Linked DNA regions of Homo sapiens: regions 1, 2, 4 and 5 are each linked to region 3. Evidence: fine-mapped expression QTL. A gene starts in region 3. Each other region holds a variant in brackets. All regions are shown on one strand. Distances are from middle to middle.

Region 1 (4,516 bases), 49 kb after region 3:
TTTGTTCTGTTGCCTAAAGAATAGCTATGCAGCTCCAGAAGCAGTAATGACCAAACCTCATGATTACAGTCACAGGGGTTATTTATTAAGCACCTACTACATGCCAGGCTATGCCCTTGCACTTACCCTCACTCATCTTCCCAGGGTGGGGTTTCTATCTACTTTTGGCCCTTGGCCACCAAGGATCCTCTCAGAGTCTCGCCCTACACAAGGGCTCACATGAGGACCCCCTCTGACAAATAGAAGGAGGATTGAAGTGCTGAGAGGTACAGAGAGAGCAGCCAGCATCAGGCTGCCAAGAAGCCCTCAAAAAATCGGAACTGAAGACAGCCTCTCAGCCTTCTAGGGACACCCATGCTGCTGGTGTCTCAAAGACTTGACATCTTCAAGTGACACCCTCCTTACTGTGCTCTCACATTATTTCACGCATATCAGGGAGCAAGTTAATATTGGCAAAGTCAAACGTATAATATGTGCTTTCTAAGAGGACGGCAGAAGGTTCAAGGTAACAATTAGCAATTTGCAGACACCCTTAAAATTCATCTACATGGAGAAACTGCACTCGTTGTTCTGATTCTCCAATGTGTTTGCTTTCAAGGCCCAGAATAGGTTTCTGTCTGTTGGTGTGGCCTGGGTCTTTGTCTCTTGTAATTAATTAACGATGAAAAAGCTAACCACCTTTGGCTTTCTTAGTACTCAGTGATCCTTGTTTTTCACCCAAACCTGTCCTAACTGAAGATTCAGATTCCCAAAAATTTCCTCTTTTCAAATTTAGGACTTCCAGCAGATTAGAACAACTAACAACAACAGCAAAATGATTGTTAGGAAGGCCAAAGGAAATAGCATTTATCTGAAAGATAAAGAGGTGCAATTTGGGTACACTGAGTCAGTGAAACCCTGAATAGTGTCCCGTATGGCAATACAGGACAGGTTTTTTATAGGGGATTTTCACAAAAGGTTGTTTTTGGAAACAGTTCATTAGCTGGTTGAAAATCCTCAACTGCAAACCCACTCTCATTGGTTATTTCATTAAAGTACTCCAGGTGAAAGAGATCAAAATCCCACGGACCCTGGCTTCAGTTGTTATCCAGGTCTATCTACTGCAACATCCTGTGGCTTGACCTTTAGCAGGTGTGATTCCAATGCTCTTACAAACTCTTGGCTCTACGTTAAAGCTTTATCCTTAATTAATGCCTTTTATTTGACAGAACGAAATATTTGTGAAAAGAAAAATACGGAATGTTTCATATTTTTATAATACCTAAAGAGAGACCTCTGTGTATCTGTAAAGTCTGGGTTAAAGATAGATCTGTGTTTTTTGGGGGAAGCATCTTCTGTGTTTGATCCAGAGCAAAACTGCTTCCATTGCCCCATTGAATCCTGGCGACATCCCAGGAAGTAGAAACGCCGTCCTCCGTCCTCCTGTTTTGCGGATGAGGAGCTGGGGTTGTCAGCCCACCCCTGTCCTGGGCTGAGCAGCCTGGTTGCAGCTCTCACGGTGGTGCCACTTTGCCATTGATCCCTGTATTGGCTTCTATAAATGCCCTCTCTGAGGTTAGTGAGCCTTCCGGGGGAGGACAGCTAGGACCAGTTAATAACATGGAGGGAGACCAATCAGTAATTTTGTTCCTATGCCCAGATTGGTGGAAGTCTCCCTGTGTGGAGAGGACTTTGAACTCAGGCCTGGACTTCCCTCTGGGCCCTGCCCCTACTCACTGTCTGACCATGGCCTGGTTCTCACCTCTAAGAGCTGTTGTGTCCTGATCTGTAAAATGAGAATAAGGACACTGCCTTCACGACATTATTAGAAAGATTAAAAACTAACGTCTCAGAAGGTTCTTAACATGTCAAACGCTTATCATCAGTGATGGTCATCTGAGTCATGTCTCCTGATTATCGATGGTCCTTTTGTAGCCAAACCCTCTGCCCCCGTGGTATCGGGCCCTGCGGTGAGGGCCACACCTGAGCACACAGTGAGCTTCACCTGCGAGTCCCATGGCTTCTCTCCCAGAGACATCACCCTGAAATGGTTCAAAAATGGGAATGAGCTCTCAGACTTCCAGACCAACGTGGACCCCGCAGGAGACAGTGTGTCCTACAGCATCCACAGCACAGCCAGGGTGGTGCTGACCCGTGGGGACGTTCACTCTCAAGTCATCTGCGAGAT[A/G]GCCCACATCACCTTGCAGGGGGACCCTCTTCGTGGGACTGCCAACTTGTCTGAGGCCATCCGAGGTAGAAGACCCTCACACCCAGCCCAAGCCCACACCTGGCTGCCAAGCCCACTCCCCTCTCCCCAGGCTCCAGAGCTTGAAAGGCCTGGAATCTAATTCCTAACTGTGTTGTCCACCTCCCATGCACCTAGGTGAGCCGGTCACTTACTATCATTTTAATGGCAGCTGTCAGGGGACCAGCAACCATGTGCCAAGCTCTGGGCTACAGAGTTTCATTTATTTCACCAAGAGCAACTACAATTAGTGAGCACCTACTAGGAGCCAAATCACTATGTGCTCGGCGATTTCACTGATTTTGCTACAGTTCTTACATTCCAACTGCATGCCAGGGGTTGTGCTTGTAGATTTCACTCATCCTTAGCCTAGCAGCAGCTAACAGTCCTTGGGCACCTACTGTGCGCCAGGCACTGTGCTTAGTAATTTCACTCATATGCAACGAGTGCCCTCAATGTCTGAGCACCTGCTGCCTGCCTAGCACTGTCCTGGTGATGCCCTCACTGTGTTGGTGGGAGCTACGTTATTTAGCCCTCCCTGTGATCTGTCTGTGCCACAAGATCAGAGCTTCTGCCCTGTGCTGTTTCAGTTCCACCCACCTTGGAGGTTACTCAACAGCCCATGAGGGCAGAGAACCAGGCAAACGTCACCTGCCAGGTGAGCAATTTCTACCCCCGGGGACTACAGCTGACCTGGTTGGAGAATGGAAATGTGTCCCGGACAGAAACAGCTTCGACCCTCATAGAGAACAAGGATGGCACCTACAACTGGATGAGCTGGCTCCTGGTGAACACCTGTGCCCACAGGGACGATGTGGTGCTCACCTGTCAGGTGGAGCATGATGGGCAGCAAGCAGTCAGCAAAAGCTATGCCCTGGAGATCTCAGCGCACCAGAAGGAGCACGGCTCAGATATCACCCATGGTGCGGTTACTTCCCATTTTTAAATTTTGTCTTTTTCTTTAATGTTAAAAGCAATATTCATGCTTGTCATAAAATAAGCTAGAAGTCTATAAATATAAAGTAGAATTTTAACGTCTACATTAAAATCCTACACTCCATGGGTCACCACTACTTAGAAGGTTCAAGGTAACAATTGGCCATTTGTAGACACCCTTAAGCCCCATCTACCAGGAGAAACTGTGCGTCAAGTCTGATGCACAACTTGATAGATATTTTGACATAAATATACATTAAAGGAAAAAAGAGAGAGGGAGGTGATCCGTTTGTTTATGAAGTCCTGTGTCTCGCCTTCTTCTGCATTTCTCGCCAGCACAGCACCTTGCCTTTTACACTTTCTAACCTCTACCTTGTCCCTATTCTATCCTAAACTTTTCCATCCGCATCTGTGACCTCAGCCACCAGTCTCCAGCATCTGCTCTATAAATTTCAGAAAGACAAGTGAAGTTTAAGCCTGGACAGACCCCCAGGTGACCTGGTCACAGCACAGGCTTCTTTTGTGTTCTGATGGTGATATTTGACCAACAATAATCACAACCACTCTGCACATTTACTATATGCAAATTTCTGTTCATCTCTGATCTCCTTTCCTGCTTCAAACACCCAGTGAGCTTGGAGTTTTACCAAAGGGGAAACCAGGACTTAGGAAGTAATGAGGGATGTTGTTGAAGACTTCTTGTCATTAGACCAGGTTATTGGTCCAAAGTAATGAAGGTAAATCTAGTCCCTGAGGACAGGCTCACTACCAGGCTATAATGGGAATTTGTGCTAATTAGAGAAACTTTCCCTTTCTGCTGCGCTTTGTCCCAAGGACCCAAATTTGGCCAGTGTTCCCCCTCTCTATAACCAAAATATGTCTTATTTCCCTCTCTTTTAATACCAGGAGGGGTCCCTCTACTCCAGTCGAAAGACAATCTTTGAGTGCTTTGACCCGAATACATCCTCCCACATCTCAGGGTCCCACAACTTCCCCATCAGGGCCCAACCCCAGCATAGAAGCCATTAAAGCTGACATTCAACATCCTTTGTGATTCTGCTACTCTTCTAATGATGGCTGGGGCCCAATCTTCTATTCTTTCTGCCCTGAGGCTCCAGGAAATAAGAATAAGGACTCAGGTTCCTTCCAAAACACCCTATGATGTTTGCGTCATCTCCTGGGTCAGTGCTGAGTCACGGATTTGTTCATGTCCCTGCCTGCCAGAAGAGGAAAGACACGAAATAGAAGACAAACAATGTCCCCAATCATCAGAGATGTGTGGAAGGTGCATAGTCACGTCCACTGAAAACTTGCTCACGCATGCACCTGCAGTTGCACATTGAGGGATCATGTGAT
Region 2 (4,516 bases), 59 kb after region 3:
CAAATCTCATCTTAAATTGTAATCTGCATGTGTTGTGGGATGGGCCTGGTAGGAGGTGACTGAATCATGGGGGCGGACTTCCCCCTTGCTGTTCTTGTGATAGTGAGTTCTCATAAGATCTCAGTGAGTTCTCATGAGATCTGGTTTTTTGAAAGTGTGTGGCAAGTCCCCCTTCGCTCTCTCTCTCTCTCTCCCTCCTGCCACCATGTGAAGAAGGTGCCTGCTTCCTTTTCTCCTTCCACCATGGTTGTAAGTTTCCTGAGGCCTCCCAGTCATGCTTCCTGTTAAGCCTGTGGAACTGTGAGTCCAATTAAACCTCTTTTATTCATAAAATATCCAGTTTCTGGTAGTTCTTTATAGCAGTGTGAGAATGGGCTAATACACGGAGCAAGCATTGTTTCTTTTCATTTGTTTATTTTATTTTTATTTTTTTGAGATGGAGTTTCACCCTTATTGCCCAGGCTGGAGTGCAATGTCGTGATCTTGGCTCACTGCAACCCCCGCCTCCAGGGTTCAAGTGATTCTCCTGCCTCAGCCTCCTGAGTAGCTGGGATTACAGGCATGTACCACCACACCCAGCTAATTTTGTATTTTTAGTAGAGATGGGGTTTCTCCATGTTGATCAGACTAGTCTTGAACTCCCGACCTCAGGTGATCCACCTGTCTTGGCCTCCCAAAGTGCTGGGATTACAGGCATGAGCCACCATGCCTAGCCAGCAAGCATCATTTCTATTATACCTTGGTGTTTTGCCATCTTTCTAAGTTTGGACTAGCTTCCAACATCTTATCCCTTGAATTTTCAATATTGTGGAATCACTCCAGAAGATCCTTTCATGTGAAGTTTTTTGCTGGCATTTCAACCTTTGGGACATCTTCAGCCCTTTTATTACCACTCCTCTCCCATTTGTGGCAGTTTGCGTTTACTACCTCCCTCTGGCTGCCTATCTGAAGTTCCTGCATCAGGGTCTACATTGCCACAGTCAACTATTTGTACTTCTAGAATTCCACTCACATTCAATTTGAACCTCACTTGCAGCATTTTCACTTCTCATTTCTTCACTGCACTTTCATCTTGGTTGCAAAATTCCTCTTTCAATTATTCATTTCTGTAAAATGTCATATGGGCTCATCACTGGGAGGCAAGGAGGCAACCCAACTATAGGATTTGCTGTTTGAGTAGGAGAGCCATAGGGACCAATCACCAACAGACTTTGAAAGACACAACATGACTGGTTACTGATCATGACGAGCTTTTATTACCATGGTGATTTGTGGACTGAAGAGCTAGCCCAGAAGTTTGTACTCTATGCAAATTACATTAAATTTACTATGGCACCTAAATTTTGAGACTTGTGTTGTGGGACTGATGTTACTTAACTAAACTATGGTAAGAGAAATGCATGCATGTCATCACCAAAGTGAGAACTGCCTGTATTTATCTATGTTACGCAAATGGAATGTCAGTTATATCGTGGGGGGTTGGGGGTGGGGGAGGATTATCTGTATCCTCAGTTGCCAGAACTGTGTCTGCCATATAATAGGCTGTCAATTTTTTTAAATGAGTGAATACATCATTGAGGTCATTGGTTTCTACTAGGTGTTGGATTTCAAAAGAAAACTTCTCTTCATTTGATCACTTGGCTTGTGTGCTGTATTCTCAAGCTCTTTCTTTAAAGACTACTCTCTCTTCTTTCTGTTTAAAACATTCCATCAAAAATTCAACATCCTCTAGAAAGTAAGAAAGTGCTAACAAGAAAAAAAAGTCAACCCCAAAACCAAAACCCACAGTGACTGGAGTACATCAAAGAGGCGCAGGAACCAACTGAAAGAGCTCCCAAAGGCCAAAGCTGGAACACTTTCAGCAAAAAAATAAGTAAAGTAGTAATGAGTTATAGTCCAAAGTATAAAATAAATATCTGAGTCCATACTGATATAAATAAATGATTGAATAAATTAATGGGAAAGAAGAGAAGAATCTCCAGTGCAGAAGAGTCCCAGATAATTTATTTATACACTCCACTCTAAAGGAGGTGGAACATAACTTCCACTCCTGAAGTGTGGGCTGTGCACTGCGACTTCTTTGCAAAGAGTACAGCATGGAAAAAAGGAGAAAAAATAACTTTACAGTGGAAAAATCTGACAAATACAGCTTCAGCCAGGTGATCAAGAGTTCATCAACAGTTATAAATCAACATCAAGAATCATAAATCATGTCACTAATATGTACCTTTAATATGATGTGATGAAGATGACACTTTTCCTCTATTACCTTCCCCCCAAAACTCACAACCCCAATCTAATCATGAGGAAAACATCAGACAAATTTCAATAAGGAGGCATTCTGCAACATCGGGCCCAGAACTCCTCAAAACTGTCAAGGTCATCAAAATCAAGGAAAGTCTAAAAAACTGTCATAGCCAAGAGAAGCTTGAGGAGATATGACAAGTAAATGTAACAGGTATCCTGGATGGGATGCTGGAAGAGAAAAACGACATTAGGTAAAAAGAAAAGATCTAAATAAACTATGAACTTTGATTAATCATAATGTATCAATATTGGTTCATTGATTATAATAATGTATCATATCAATGTAAGATGCTAAT[G/A]ATAGGGCTCAATTTTTCTGTAAATCTAAAGCTGTCCTTAAAAAATTAAGTCTATTAGAAAAAATTAACGTCTTGTCCTCAGCTAGGTTTTATTTGCCTCTTGTACCCCGTGGGGAACAATGCAAGGAAATGTGCGGTAGGGAGACTTTGTTGATATTCCAAAGTTTTATCTCACTTCAAAAGCCTGAGGTTTCCTTTCCTCTCGTCCTTCCTCTGTCCACTACCAGAGCTCACCCCAGATCTAGGCACTCAGATCCCAGAGGAAGTGGCTTCTCAATCCCCCGTGATGCTCACCCTAAACTTTTCCCATTAGTAAAATCCAGGTCAGACCAAGTGGGATCAGAAAACTTTGGGTTATGTGGGTGAGCTGGGATAGCTTTGAGGACCTGACTATGAGTGAGTGAATAATGTCCTGAGCCCAAGTCTTCACAGGAACAAGTTGTTCCCATGAATTGTGTAATGGATGCTGAGAGGCACCTGGCTGTGGAGATGGTCCTCAGCATCAGCTCTATTTGCGATTGTCTCAGCTGAAGGGAGTGCCCTTGCTTAGGTCGTATCTGGTAACAAACCACATCTCATTGGACTCATCAACCTAGTCGTATAAAGGCCCAGCTCTCTTATCCTAACTCAGAGCAACTCTGGAGGAATATCCTAGTACCAGGCTCCATGCAAGGTCAGCTGAGGTCTTCAATGGGACTTCATTGCAGCCCAGCTTCTTCTTCTACCCAGTCCTGCTTCCATCTTCTCCCGTCCACAAGTGTTGATCCTAAAAGTACTCCCTGAAAGATAACCTGCTTGTTCATCTTCACCCCAGAGTCTGTCTCCCAGGGAACCCAACCTGGGACAGTGAAGCTATGCTACGTATCAGAAAGGTGGGGATCCCTTCATCTCTAAGGGAGCAAGTCAGTCACAGAAGAAAGCCTTGTTTATAGTACCTCCAGATTAATGAGAATCCACAAAAATGTTTATTCAAGAGAGGGACATAATTAAATCTATGTTGTAAAAAGACCAGTCTGGCTGAAGAAGGAGAAAGAGATTATAGGGGGCAAATAAAAATGGGGGTACCCTAGTGAGAAGGCAATTGTTCTTATTCAGGCAAGAGATGATGATAGAGATGGAGAAAGAGATTAATTCAGAAGGGATTTAGGAGGTAAATCCAATAGGGCCTGGTAGGGGCAAGATAGGAGTGTGAAACTATGCCCCCAAAGAGTTAAAGAAACCAGTCACTAAGAAATTCTTGAGTTTACAGGATAGCAGATAAGAAAAAAAAAAAATTGCTAAACTGCCGAAACTTCCTCCACTTGTAGGATAACAAAACTGACTAAAATCTGTTGGAACCAATATGGCCAACTGGAGTTTGCTCAGAATGAGCTTGCTGATGTCACAGCCTGAGTTTCTACCACGTATTTCATGATGACGCCCCAGGGTTTTGCACATGGGAGCCGTGAAGAGGCATAGAGAGATAACTGTACATGCCCAAGGACTTTCCAGACCTCCCCTTTCCTTTCACAAATCACATACTAATCCCAGAATCCAACCCCTAAACTTTTGCTAATAAAACTACTGCCTTGAAGCCAGCACATGGAGCTAGATTTGAGGTAGACTTCTGTCTTCCTGTTAGTCAACTTGCAATAAAAAGCTTTTCTTTTCTCAAAAGCCTGGTGTCACAGTATTGGCTTCTAGCACATCAGGCAGCAACCCCCTTTCACTTGGTAACAAGTGGATAAGTGAGGGTATAGAACATGAGTCCCTTCCTGGTTTGACAAACTGCTTAGATGATGGTACCATATACAAAACAGGCATGGTGTGGGAGAAGATAAGGTTTGTGAGTGCAGATCTGAAACTCAAACTTGAATATTTAAGGTATACAAAGAGGCCAGGCTCAGTGGCTCACACCTGAAATCCCAGCACTT
Region 3 (4,516 bases):
TGTAAGTTTCCTGTGACCTCCCAGAAGCTGATACCAGCATTATGCTTCCTGTAAAGCCTCTGAAACCATCAGCCAATTAAACCTCTTCTCTTTATCAATTACCCAGTCTCAGTCTCAGGTATTTCATTATAACAATTATAGAAAGAACAGATTAATACATCCACCTATTTGTTTTTTAAACAATTTAGCACTAATTATATTTTTTCAAAATTCTTCTTTTTATTACTTTTCTCAGATACCTGTTGTTACTGCACACCTACCTATTCTTGTTTCACACGTGACTTTGTTTTATGGATTTACTTTCTTTTCATTATCTCTATAAGGTTACTAAATATGTTAATGTTAAAAATATTTTCACATTTTATATTTTTATTTTCTGAGGTATTATTTTCTAAGATGTTATTTTCATTGCTGTTTTTGTTTTTTAGTTATTGTTTTTGAATTTATTATGATGTCGCTTTTCCCCAAATCTTTAGTGATTACTGCTTTCACTGTAATCTTTACAGGAATAATGCCCTGAGTGATCATGGGCTGTCAGCACTTTATGGAACATGGCACCTATCCCAACCTTGCTGTGGAGGCTGCGCCTAATTGACGTTATGGCTTCTTCTCTGCTTCCTTCCTGAGAGATATCTCTCCCTTCTTATGAGAGGTGTCATAGTGAAGGCCATGGAGTGTGACAACCTGTGTTCTAGTTCTAAAAGCTGGGTGATGTTGAACAAATGTATTATTGCCTGCGTGCCTCAAGTTTCCTCACCTATAAAAAAAGGTTAATGGTAGTGCTAATTTCATGGGACCAGAGTGATGAATTAATGAGGTAACTGACAAAATGCTTGGCACAGTACCTGGAGCACAGGACATCTGCAGTAAACACAGCAGCTACTACCCTTCATGTCATATAGAGACTAGTTTCTTGTTTTAAAGTGTAATTTGGCATCGATTAACATGATTTTATCATTTTTATATTCATTTCTGTGAGTGTGGAGCAGGAGGTGATGATTTCACCCTCTGTGCATCTGCCACATTGAAAAAGAAATTTGCATGGAAATGTGATGACTTTTACAATTTCATTTGACAATTACTCATGATAGGTGAAGGATTGCAAGCCCAGCATGGGAAAGAGAGGTTTCCAGACAGGTCTTTCTTAGTCACAGATGATGGAGGAGAAACCATTTCTCCTACCAAGGAAATTTTTCTAAAGCACAAGTATGTCAGGGAAGCAGTGAACTCACCCTGTACACAAATGTAATTATAGCCACAATTTTTTGGTTATAATTAAATATGAATCAAACCTTCTGTATGGCTTATATTACTCTTACCATATCACTACAAGGTGCATGTTATAACTTCCATTTACATGTAATTAAGTTAAGGCTTAGAGAAGTCAAGTGTCTTGTTGAAAGTCACACAGCTGGAGATTGTAAGAAAAGGAATTCATCTACAGATTGACAAAAAGCAGGGTGAAGAGGATCCAGAGGGAGAAATTGATCTCAGAGTGTCAGAGGTAGACCAAGTACACCATAAAAGCTGGGTTCCAGAAGTCCGGGGAACATGGGAGAAGGCCACTGGTGGGAAACTCAGCATGCAGTAGAAATCCATTTAAAAGCAATATTTGAGTTCCCTCTCTTCACCTGGCACCATGAGTATCAATAATAACCTACTGAATCTCAGGGATGTATAGTCATTATCTCTTTTGATGTTCACTAAAACATGGCAGTGAGACTTATTATCCCAAGGTTAGAAGGCAAAACTGAACCTAGGCAGGCCCAGTAACTTCCCCAACTCCTTAGCACATCTTCTTAGGGTATTTATTCTCCCTCCCTCCTCAGTTCCCATCTGAAGACAGTGATGAATGGAATAGGTGTTCTATGTGCAGAGCAAAGAGTATTGAAATCGATGTGACTGCTCCAGGAATCTGCCCTCCATATTCTCCCCCATAATAAACATATCCCCTTTCCATAACCCATAATCCCCACCTCACCTCACAAAGCAGATCCTTATTACCCTAAGCCCACTTCCTCTCCTGGAAGAAGTCAGGAAATAATTCCTTCTGCTGGGTGCAGGCATATGAAAGTGCTAACGGCCACATGAGACTGAATTTGGGCTAAGTTTTGCCATTTATATTTATAAAAGTTCGGAATAGGGAACCATTTCAAGAGCAGACCTGTTCCTCTCCAACACTGAGCAGGTCCAGTGATCCCTCATCCTGCCCCAACTGAGTAGCACTTGGTTGAGGCTGTTGTAGAATGAGACCACAAGCCAACCACATCCTGAGGTCTTGAGATGGAAAGTTTAGGAAACATTTCATAACCACAGGTCCTTCCTGGCTTAAGAGCACCAAATGGCAAATCACCAAGAAGACATAAAGATGGGGTTAGGAGTCATGGAAGGAGTTAAGACCTCAGGTGGGAAGGAAGCATTATTTCTGCTAAGCCTGTCTGATTCTCCTGAAATGGGGCATGCATAACTGCTTGCATTGTAGCTGCTTGCTGTTCCTGATTTCTGTTTCACAATCCAGAAGCAGGTTACTGCTTCACTCCATCGCAGCCACTTCCTCTTGAACTAAGGGAGGCAGGGCTTGTCTTCTCTCCTCAGAGCAGAGTCTGCGATCTTCCCAGCACAGACGTTTGGACAGAGCAGGCTCCTAAGGTCTCCAGAATGCCCGTGCCAGCCTCCTGGCCCCACCTTCCTAGTCCTTTCCTGCTGATGACGCTACTGCTGGGGAGACTCACAGGTGAGCACTGCCTTCGGTTAAAATCTTTTTTCCTGCCCACTGAGCCATGGCCTGTCCCTGGACTTTCAGGGATTCCGGACAATGACAAGTGCTGCCAAGAAAGGCCAAGGATTAGGCTTTGACTGAGAGCAGAAAATCAGGGAGCTGAGCACTTTCTCTGTGGATCTGCAGCTGGCTACCAGAGGCATTGAACCACAGGACGATTCAACCACCACAACAACAATTACTTACATTTTGATAATATTTCAATTGAAAAAGCAGAGAAGAATCATTATCTAAATCCTCACCAGTCCTGAGGCCCTAGGGCCAAGTGACATGCCCAAGTCCACAGAGTAAGCTCAGAGACACCCTAACAGGGTTATGTGGCTCTAGGCCCAGCCCTCTCTCTTCACCAAACTGAGGATGTGAAGTCTGTAATAGTGCTCACTTGAGTAGGGCAGTGGTGTGGTGTATCCTGGGAGTGTTCAGCCACCATCCTCCCTAAGGGTGCTCCTCACTTTGTCCTCTGTTCCCCCATGCTCCTCCCTCCCCTGTGACCTGATTCTTACCACCCATTTCTCTGTGGCCTCTTCCTCTTTAAGAAGTTCCACATTTGCTGCTTACTGGGTCCTATATTCCTTTCCTAGGGCTTCCATAACAAAGAACTGCAGGCTGGGTGGCTGAAACTACAGATATTTACTTCCTTGCAGTTAAGGAGGCTGAAGTCCAAGATCAAGGTGTCAGCAGGGTTAGTTTCTACTGAAGTCTCTCTCCTTGGCTTATACAGGGCCATTTTCTCTCTGTGTCTTAAACACATGATCTTCCTCTGTGTGTGTCTGTGTCCTCATCTCCTCTTCTTATGAGAATATCAGTCTTGTTGTATTAAGGCCCACCCCAATGACCTCATTTAACTAAATTACTTCTTAAAGACCCTGTCTCCCAAACTGTAACGTTCAGAGGTGCTGGGGATTAGAGCTTCAACACATGCATTTTGTGGGACACATTCAGCCCATAACAGGTACTACAACCTCCTTTGGTTCTCTTAAATTTCCCATGGATAATTTCTTTCCCCTTCCCAAGACAGGCAGGATTGGAGGGCCTTTCCTGGTGCAGCCTGGGAGAACCCTGCTCACAGCTCCCAGACAAGTTACCTGTCCTGATCCCTTCTCAGGCCATGGAGCTGACCCCAGAACCACAGGGCTGGGCACAGCAGCCTCTCAATTCCCCACTGGGCCCTGCTGTGATGTCACCTCACAGGCCCTAGAGGGCAGGGGTCTCACTTTTCAAATTATTTTTCTCACACATACACTGTACCCAAATGACAGCAGTAAGAGTTTAACAATTGAGCTCTTCCTACCATGTAGACACAGTTATTAGCATTTTGCCTGTTTTAGCTCCACTAATCCTCACAACATCCCTGTGTGAAAGCTGCAACTATTATCCCCTATTTCCAAACAAAGACTCAGGCAGAGGGAGGAACTTGTCCATTCATTGTCCCCTACCTCAGTCAGTGGAGCAGCTGAGATTCAAGTCCAGGTCGACCGGCTCCAAAGTTCATTCTTTTAGTCGTGTTATGCTACTAGCAGAAATATTAGAAAATGCAGGGAAGTAAACATAGAATTAATTATTGCCTACCACACTTGTTAGCAACAACCAGAGTTACAACTGTGATGTATGTACTTCTAAATTTGTTATTAATGTGTTGGATGCTTTCTATGGGCCACATATTTTACTTTCTATGGGCCAGATATTTTAATGAGATTTTAACGTGTGTTGTAATTTTATTTAATACACAAAACAAAC
Region 4 (4,516 bases), 290 kb before region 3:
AGGGGGCAAGAAATGGCTCTTCCTTCATAAGTACTTGTTATAAAAGGAGAAAGTGCCAGGATGAGGATCCAATCCAGCTGCTGCTCCCTGGCCCCCTCCCACCTCCCTCCTTTCTCATCCAGGGCATCATTTAGGCTGACAGCATGGCAAAGAGGAGTGAGCACTCTGCTAGGAGTCAGCAGATCTGGGTCACACCTGAGCCACGTATTTGCTGTGATTGTCTAGGCACGAGATGCATCATCTGGGAACTTCAACGTCTTTTCCTGTAACATCTGCACAATCAGGATAAAGCCACCCTCCCTGCCTATGTCCAGCGGTTGTGGGGAGACTTGATTGTTATAATGTCTAGGAGGGAAATTAGGCCATATCCACACACATTAAAACACACACCCCCTCTGATCTAGCAATGGCACTTGCAGTGGGCGTCTCCCACCTGAGTAAGGTCACACATGTATAAGGTCATCCACTGCAGGACTGTTTTAATAGTTCAAGTTTGGGGACAAGTTACGTATCCATCAATGGAAGATGGTAAAATAAATCTGGTATTTCCATAAGCTGGAGTATTCTGTAGCTATTACACAATGGAGCAGGTCTCTATCCTGATATGAAATCTCAGTATCAAATGATATGGCTTACATTTGGGAGCGGTTTTCCAATCACCAGTGGGCCTAACGGTCTGAATGTGAATATTCTGAACCTTTAGGAAACTGATGGAAAGGAGAAGTGCTGGCTTCCTGCTTAGCAGTTCTGTTCAAGGAGCTTTCAGTCGGCACCTATGATGCACCAGGCTCTTCTATGTAAACAATGGCTAATGAAGGAGCCTCCCTGGAATCAGATGTGGGCTCTGGTCCAGATCCTGTCACTAACTGGGCCTATGACTGTGGACAAGGCCCCTGTCATCTCCTGACTTCAAGTTTCCACCTGTAACTAGGGGTTGGGCTGGATGGTCTGAGGGTCCTTCCTGTACTAATGTCCCAGGATTCGGAGTTAGAACAAGGATCCTGGGGCTCTGGCAGTAAATACAAAATGAGCATCTTTGCTGCCTTAACGGAGGAACCCAAAGTCACCTAGAAGGGAGACCTCCTCCCTGGGGTGAGAGACATTCTATGATGACCCAGCTTTGTTCAGAGCCTTTAGTGACGCATGAATCAGTCCCTAAATCACACAAGTGTTTTTCTAAAAGACCCACAGAAAATGCCCAACCCTCTGGCTTCTCCTCTCACCAGGGCCATCAGATTAAACAGTAAATCTGTGCCTTTTAGGAATCTTCTCAGTTGGTGTTTGGTGATGAAATAAAGGAAACACACCCTCTCTGCTCCCTGCCCTGGGTGGATCTCTTATTGGAAGGGATGAGAACACAAGCTTGGCGGAGCCTGGCACACAGTAGGTTCTCAGTGAGTGCCTGTCACATAGAGGAGACTCGGCTGCCCTGAGAGGGAAGTGCTCTCTGGAGGCAGCAGGTGAGGTCTGGTCCTGTGCCTGGGCAAGTCACACTATCTGTCAGTTTCCTCATCTGTGGAATGAAAGGGCTGGGTCAGCTTTGAAGAGGCCAGGGCTACACAGCCAGGCAGATGAAGGATGCAGATGTTCCCACCCTTTACCAGCTGTGGAGCCTTCAGCAAATAGCATGACGTCTTCAGGCCTCAACTTCCCTTATTTGTAAAAGGGGGAGACATCAATTCATGGAAAGGAGCACCTACCACCACACCTGATCATTGCTCAAAGAATGGAGGGTGTTATTATTGAGTTACTGTCACAAACCAGAGGCAAAGGAGGCCCACGCTGTACTCACC[G/A]CGCACAGACAGCTCAGTGCCTGCTCCAGACTTAAACTCCACGTCATCGGGGCTCCCTTTCCGGAACTTCACACAGTAGTAGGTGCCGGCATCTGCTGGGGTGATGTTACCGATGCGGATGGAAAAGTCCATGTTGTTTCTCTTTGTGAGGTCTGAAACAGTTGTTACCCGGGGGAAGTGGCCTTCTTTTTGATTGTAGATTAATTCCCGGCCTGGTCCAGCTCCTCTGAACCACTGGATGGGCCCCACAGGGATCAGAGAGGTCGCAGTGCAGCGCAGAGTGGCTGTCTCTCCAGCTGCAACCAACACGGACTTGTCAGGCTGAATCACCTGCAGCTCCTCCTCACCCGCCACTCCTGGAAAGGAGCACAAAGCAGTCATTTTTTCATCCTTACGTGATCCTCTGTGTTTCCTCAAGTGTTTATCAATGACGTTCATTGACTGGATGCACACCAGAAGCAGGCTGTGAGATCAGTATAGTGCATGTATCATCTCATTTGACCCTCACAACAAACCTGCAACATGAGCCTGTATTCTAAGTGGGGACACTGAGGCACAGAAAGCTAAATGACATGGCAGAGAGTGGGTTTGAATGCCTGGACCCTCTCTGGAAGAGTCACATCTGAGCTGGGCTAATTCTAATCTGAATGAGCCAGAAGGGAGCCTGGTATTCCAGACAGAGGGAACAGCCTGGGCAAAGACTCAGAGGTAGGGGCCTGGCATATCTGGGGCTGTACAAGGTGTTAAGATTCTGTTTCTGGCCTGGCCCAGGATGCAGGCCCCGAGAAGGGAGGCTGTACTCAGCGGTTTGGGCAGTAGGAGAATGTAGTTTGAGTTCTGGATCAGTGGCCTATAGCTGTGTCCTTGGGCCACCACTCAGGTAACCAAGAATATCCAATGTAGACTCGTGCCAGTGTGTTTGAGTCCCCACCTGGAACCCAGGACTGAGCCTGGCTAGCAAAGTGTCACACAAATGCAAGAGCTGCCCTTAGTTTGCCCTTACTGCTCTCAGCCTTGGTTTCTTCATCTGTAAAATAGTTACTATGACCCCACCTCGATGGATCTCTGGGAGGATAAAATAAGCCAAGGCTGGGGACAGCGTCCAAATGCAGCATCTGGTCTTTAGAGTCATCGGACCTGGTTTGAAACCTGGCTCGCCCCTTGTTCTTGTGGGACCTTAATTTATCCATCAGTTTTGAGTCTCAGTTTTCTTATCTACAGGATGGGTAGAACAGCCCCCAGGCCTCTGCTTTGTTCTGAAAAGAAAACGAGATCACACATAGAAGTCACTTAGCCCTGAGATGGGCCCTGAGGAAGTTGTTGTTACTATACATTGAATAAACAAGGAGGTGGCTGTGGCTCAAACTTCACTCTCACCAACACCTGCTGATGCCCTGTGATCCAGGCCTCACTGTGATGGGGACACACTGGAGCTGGACCCAGTCCAGGCCTCAAGGGCTCCCAAATGGGCAGCTGGAAGGAATTGTAGAGGTTGGCTGCAGGAGCCTGAGCCCCAATCAGAGACACTGGGGCACACAAGACAGGGACCCTGGGTGGAGAGATTGGGGTGCACGGGGGGAGCCCAGACAGGAAGAGGGCAGGACGAGCTTGTCATGAGATGCGTTGAAGATGGATAGGGACCAAGTGAGAACAGTTCAGAGCAAGGCAGAGCCAGGGCCTCGATTCTGAACAAGGTGAGGTACAAGAAACAAAAAAAAGAAAGATCATGATCATAAAGACCTCAGAGAAACACATGCCTGAGAGACAGACGCAGAGTGAGAGAGCGAGCTAGAATAGGGGAGAAGGAGAGAACCAGGTAGACAGAGGAGTGGCAGCTACCTGGTATGCAGGTGACAGGTGACCTGGGGCCCCAGTTGGGCTCTCCACTGACCCTTCATGTGACCTTGTCCTGCCCTGACCTGGGCCACCTTTGCCTTGTACATCAGACAAGGCTGCGGCAGATGTCCAGAGCTGCTGTGCCCCTCTGGCTCTGGCTGGGGAGGAGAGAGACCCTGTGAATTTGCCCACCAACCCATGGCCTGGCACCACCCCACTGGCAGGGGCAGGGCAGCCAGGGAAAGAGGCTCACAGACCCCTATCTGCCCTCACTGCAGGAAGCCCAGGGCTATCTGCCCATTGTCCTGCCTCTTTCTCCCATTCCCAGCCTCACCCAGTCTTGACTCTGGCAAGGGATCACCCTTGGGGCCCGGTTCTCATGGCAGGTGAGTGGAGTCTCAGAGTGCCTAAGACCACTCCACCTGCTTTGGGTGTAAATATTACCATTTCGACTTCCTTTTCCTGATCAACCACTTAAGACCTCAACTGCTTTTATTATCAGGAAGTCCAGCTTCTCATTTCATTTCCATTTGAAGTTGAACATGGCAAGATCTTCATGGCACAGGAGAAAAAAACAGAACCCACAGTGGACAGACAGAACCCACAGTGGACAGAGGCCCAGCCAGCATCAGACGGCCTGAGAGGGGTGAGGCTGGTGGCCAAATGTGTGGGAGGCCCGGGAGGCCCATCCAGGCGGGGACATCAGAGGCAGCACCAGCAGCACTGAGCTAGGAACTTTCCGGATAGGTCTGTATTTCAGCCTCGAGACTGGACCAACTGGAAAGGCTGCCTCGGGGAAGCACAGTTGCTAGGGCCAGCAGGCCTGGGTGACAGCATGGCTCCCCTCTTAGCCACCTCTGTACCCACCTTCCCTGGACCCCCATTCC
Region 5 (4,516 bases), 90 kb after region 3:
AGCCCAACAGTTAGTTCAGATGTACTTGTATTGGTGAATTAATTATTATGATTCTTTTTTAAAAAAATGAGTGTGATAATTTACTGTAACAGAACCATAGAAACATACATCAAGATAATTTAGGGGACTTTCACATTTTAGCTTACAGCCATGGAGAAACAAGGAGAATGGTAGGCAGTCTTTGGGGACAAAGAGAATGTCATACAATTTTAAAGAATTGAAACTAAAAAGTTATGCACAAAGCACTGTGAGTGACACCAGCATGAGATGCCTAAGGACAATATTAGACCCAGGAATACAAGGAATAGTGCCTTCACAATTCTTAGGGAAAATTATTTCAAAGCTAAAATCATTTACCCAGACAATCTATGGAGTTTGCAAGATTATCAAGAATTGCTTTTTACACCCTCTTATGCTTAACTAAAATAGGAGTCATACAAAAAAAAAAAGGTAAGAATGAGAACTAGGAATAGGGGATTGGAAACCCTAAGATAACAGTTGTGCAGGAGGCATAGAAATGGCCACTGGGCCATTCCAGAACAGGAGGACTTGCAGCATTACTAGGGACATCTCCAAAAGATAGAATCAGTAGAATACTTAAGCAGTCTTCAAACTCATGCCCACCATTTCTAATAGTATTTAACATTACGTTGAAGTATTTGTCAATGCTTTTAGAAGGAGAGAACAATAAAAAGCATATTAATTGCAAAGGAAGTGGGAAAACTATCTCTCTTTGTAGATGATATGGTATCTGGAAAACTTAATAGAATCAACATTAAACTGCTATAAAAAACAAGATAATTTAAGTAACATAGTAAGTTATAAAATCAACAAACAGAAATCAACAACCTTCACATATACAAAGAAAAACCAGTTAGAACATACAGTGAAAAAAGACAAACACATAGTACAATAGCAAAATTAAATTAAATTAAATAATTGGGGCAACTTCTACCAAAATAGTGATGGGGACTGGATTTACTCTCTTGCTAAAAATCTGGGCAAATTATTTAAAACATGGTAGACAAGACATTGGATACCAGGCAACAAAGGACAGTGATCCCTGTGAAATGGGACATAAATGAAGCGAGCCCTAAGGCTGCCCTAAGAGTACTCTCTGAGAAGGCTTTAAGACCACCATGCAGAACGAGATAACTCAGGTGGAGCCCGAAGTTCTCCCTGAGTTGTTAAGAAGGACCTGGATGTCCACAGAGGCCAAGTGACTAGAGTTTTCAGGGTAGGGCACCAAAGAGCAGGTCGTTTCACAGAAAGAGAACTCCAAATATCTGTAAAAGGTCCCCATTGAATATTCAGTGAAGTATTGAAAAGTGTATTATGTACATGAGAAAAGTACATGAGGCCAGAGGAGAAAAATTTCTGGAGCTTACGCAAGGCTAAGAATAGTGCCTGATCTTTACAACCTGAGTGAAAAAAACTTATAATTCATGGGACATCTGGTAGAATACACAGAAGAGTTCTGCCTCAGTAAAGGAAAAAGAATTAGCCCTAGACCAAATGATGCTGGAGGCATGCCTTGCAAAGCTTAAGTCCAAAACATGAAAAGTTCAAACCGCTTCCAGGTAATTTAACCATGTCCCAAAACAAGCTCAAGCATATTTATAGAAAGGCAAAATACCCACTACCCATTGAAGTAAAAGTCACAATATCTGTTATCCAATAAAAAATTACCAGGCATGAAAATGGCAGGAAAATGTGATTCATAATAAGAAAAATTAATCATTTGAAACTAACCAGAAAAGACAGGTGATAAAATTAGTACACAAAGAAATTAAAGTTATTATAAGTATACTCTGTATGTTCAGGAAGCTAGAAGAAAAACTGAATATGTGAAGTAGATGCACGGAAAATATTTAAAAGATCCATATTGAACTTTTAGAGATGAAAGCTGCAATATCTAAGATGAAAAATAGACTGAGTAGGATTAATAGCAGTTAAGATGTTGAAGAAAATAGATTAATGAACTTAAAGACACAACAACAGAAACTATTCAAAATGACACAGAGAGATAAAAATGGAATATATAAAGCCACATCCAAATATAAGACCAAAAAAATTAAAAACTGTATAAAAGATAAACAGAGCAGCCAGATGCAGTGGCTCACGCCTGTAATCCCAGCACATTGGGAGGCCAAGGCGGGTGGATCACGAGGTCAGGAGATCGAGACCATCCTGGCTAACACGGTGAAATCCCATCTCT[G/A]CTAAAAAAAAAACAAAACATTAGTCGGGCGTGGTGGCGGGCGCCTGTAGTCCCAGCTACTTGGGAGGCTGAGGCAGGAGAATGGCGTGAACCCAGGAGGTGGAGCTTGCAGTGAGCCGAGATGGCACCACTGCACTCCAGCCTGGGCGACAGAGCGAGACTCCATCTCAAAAAAAAAAGATAAACAGAGCATCAATCAGCAGCTATGGGGAAATTTCAAGTGGCCTAATAGATATGTATTGGAGACACCAGTGGAAGAGGGGACAGAAAGAATATTTGAAGAAATAATGGTCACATATGTTCCAAATATGATGAAAACTGTAGACCCACAGATCCAAAAACTCGATGAACCCCAAGCACAAACCAAGTTGCACAAACCAATAAAGAAAATATCTTAAAAGCAGCCCCCCAAAAAGAAATATTAAATACAAAAGAACAAAAAATACAGGAGACTTTTCATCAAAAATAATGCAAGCTTAAGACAGTGGGGATACATCTTTAAAGCTTTTTTTCTTTTTTTTTTGAGACAGAGTTTCACCCTCATCACCCAGACTGGAGTGCAGCGGCGCGATCTCGACTCACTGCAACCTCCGCCTCCCAGATTCAAGCAATTCTCCTGCCTCACCCTCCCGAGTAGCTGGGATTACAGGCACCTGCCATCATGCCTGGCTAATTTTCGTACTTTTAGTAGAGACAAGGTTTCACCATATTGACCAAGCTGGTCTCGAACTCCTGACCTCAGGTGATCCACCCTCCTCGGCCTCCCAAAATGCTGGGATTACAGGCATGCCCCACGATGCCTGGCTATTTAAAGCATTTTTAAAAAGAAAACAATAATTAATTAGTCATTCTAGAATTTTTACCTAGCAAAAATATCTTTTAAAATAAATACATAAAATTAAGCATTTAATTTATTTATCTATTTTTTGAGCCAGTCTTGCTCTGCCATCCAGGCTGGAGTTAAGTACTCACTTTGGCAGCACAGATACTAAGAGTGAAATGATACAGAGATTAGTATGGCCTGTGTACACGGATGGAATGCAAATTTGTGATGCATTCCATATATTTTCCCAGTTTTGCTAGATGGAAAGCATTCTAGAGATGTATAGTGGTGATGGTTGCACAACAATGTGACTCATGCCACTGAAACTGTACTCTAAATGTGTACTCAATGCCACTGAACTGTACACTAAAAAATGGTTAAGATGGCAGATCTTATGTGTACTTTACCACAATTTTTGAAGTGAAGAATAAAGATTTTATCAATCATACAAAAGCTGAAAGAATTCATCATCAACAGATCTGCACTACAAGAAATGTTAAAAAGAAGTCCTTCCAACAGTAGTGAAATGATACCAGATGGAAACCTGGATATATACAAAGAAATTAAAAGCAAGAGAAATAGTAACAATGTGGGAAAATATTTTAAAAGTATATTTAAATGTACTTAAAACATAGCTGTTCAAAGCAAATACAATAATAATATATTTGACAAATTATAACATACATGGAAGTAAAATGTGTGAGAAAAATAGCACAAAGACCAGGAAGAGAGACACAGAAATATATTACTGTAAGAATTTTATGCTATGTGTGAAGTGATACCTTATCACTCATGGTAAATAATGATGAGTTAATAATGTATGCCAGAAATCCCAAAACAACCAGTAAAATAACACAACAAAGAGTAATAGCTAATAAACTGACAAAAGACATAAATCAGAATCATAAAAATCAATCCAAAAGAAGACAGAAAATGAGGTACACTGGAAAAGAGATGAGGCTAGTAAGTAGCAAGATCATAGATTTAGACCTAGTCATATAAATAATCATATTAAATGTAAATGGTTTAAACACACCAATTAAAATAAAGTGATTTTTGCATTATATTTTTTAAAGTAGGATCCACTATTTGCTGCCTGCAGAGAATTGATTCTCTTCAAAAATAAAGGCACAAATAGATTAAAAATAAAAGGACAGAAAAATATATGCAACATCAACAATAATTTTTTAAATATGGAATGCCTACATTAATATCAAAGTGTATTTAGAACAAAGAAATTATGAGAACATAGAATATCATTTATAATAAGCTTATCAATTAATAAAATATACCAATTCTAAATGTTGATGCATATAATAATAGAGTTTCAAAATACATAAAACAAAACTCATGGAATTGCAAGAATATATAGAAAAATCTACAATTATAGTCAGATCTCAAAACCTCTCTTTCAATAATTGGTAAAAAAAGGAGGCAGAAAATCAGTAAAGATGTAGAAGACTTGAACAGCACTA

Evidence for each region. PIP is the estimated chance that this variant, and not a neighbour inherited with it, causes the effect.
Region 1: its variant is fine-mapped to the expression of SIRPB1 in whole blood (INTERVAL, PIP above 0.99).
Region 2: its variant is fine-mapped to the expression of SIRPB1 in whole blood (TOPMed, PIP above 0.99).
Region 4: its variant is fine-mapped to the expression of SIRPB1 in breast (GTEx, PIP 0.98). The same link has a PIP of 0.9 or more in cerebral cortex and nucleus accumbens.
Region 5: its variant is fine-mapped to the expression of SIRPB1 in whole blood (INTERVAL, PIP above 0.99). The same link has a PIP of 0.9 or more in lung.

Annotation. Positions count from the first base shown.
Region 1 is chr20:1,569,436-1,573,951 of GRCh38, reverse strand. SIRPB1 (signal regulatory protein beta 1) reads left to right here. Exons shown (of 6, transcript NM_006065.5): 3 at 1,915-2,232; 4 at 2,815-3,147. Among named protein-coding and RNA genes, the nearest start is that of SIRPD, 14 kb to the right of the region's middle. The variant A/G (reference allele first, on the strand shown) is at 2,168.
Region 2 is chr20:1,559,411-1,563,926 of GRCh38, reverse strand. It overlaps SIRPB1 (signal regulatory protein beta 1), which reads left to right. Exons shown (of 6, transcript NM_006065.5): 6 at 1-2,542. LOC107985409 (a long non-coding RNA gene) reads right to left here. Exons shown (of 3, transcript XR_007067493.1): 2 at 3,262-3,382; 3 at 2,390-2,475. Among named protein-coding and RNA genes, the nearest start is that of SIRPD, 4.0 kb to the right of the region's middle. The variant G/A (reference allele first, on the strand shown) is at 2,604.
Region 3 is chr20:1,618,087-1,622,602 of GRCh38, reverse strand. SIRPB1 (signal regulatory protein beta 1) reads left to right here and starts at 2,594. Exons shown (of 6, transcript NM_006065.5): 1 at 2,594-2,734. The coding sequence starts at 2,659.
Region 4 is chr20:1,912,732-1,917,247 of GRCh38, reverse strand. SIRPA (signal regulatory protein alpha) reads right to left here. Exons shown (of 8, transcript NM_001040023.2): 2 at 1,793-2,149. Among named protein-coding and RNA genes, the nearest start is that of SIRPA, 20 kb to the right of the region's middle. The variant G/A (reference allele first, on the strand shown) is at 1,794.
Region 5 is chr20:1,527,826-1,532,341 of GRCh38, reverse strand. All of the region lies in intron 2 of LOC105372499 (a long non-coding RNA gene), which reads right to left. It also overlaps the pseudogene RNU6-917P. Among named protein-coding and RNA genes, the nearest start is that of SIRPD, 28 kb to the left of the region's middle. The variant G/A (reference allele first, on the strand shown) is at 2,219.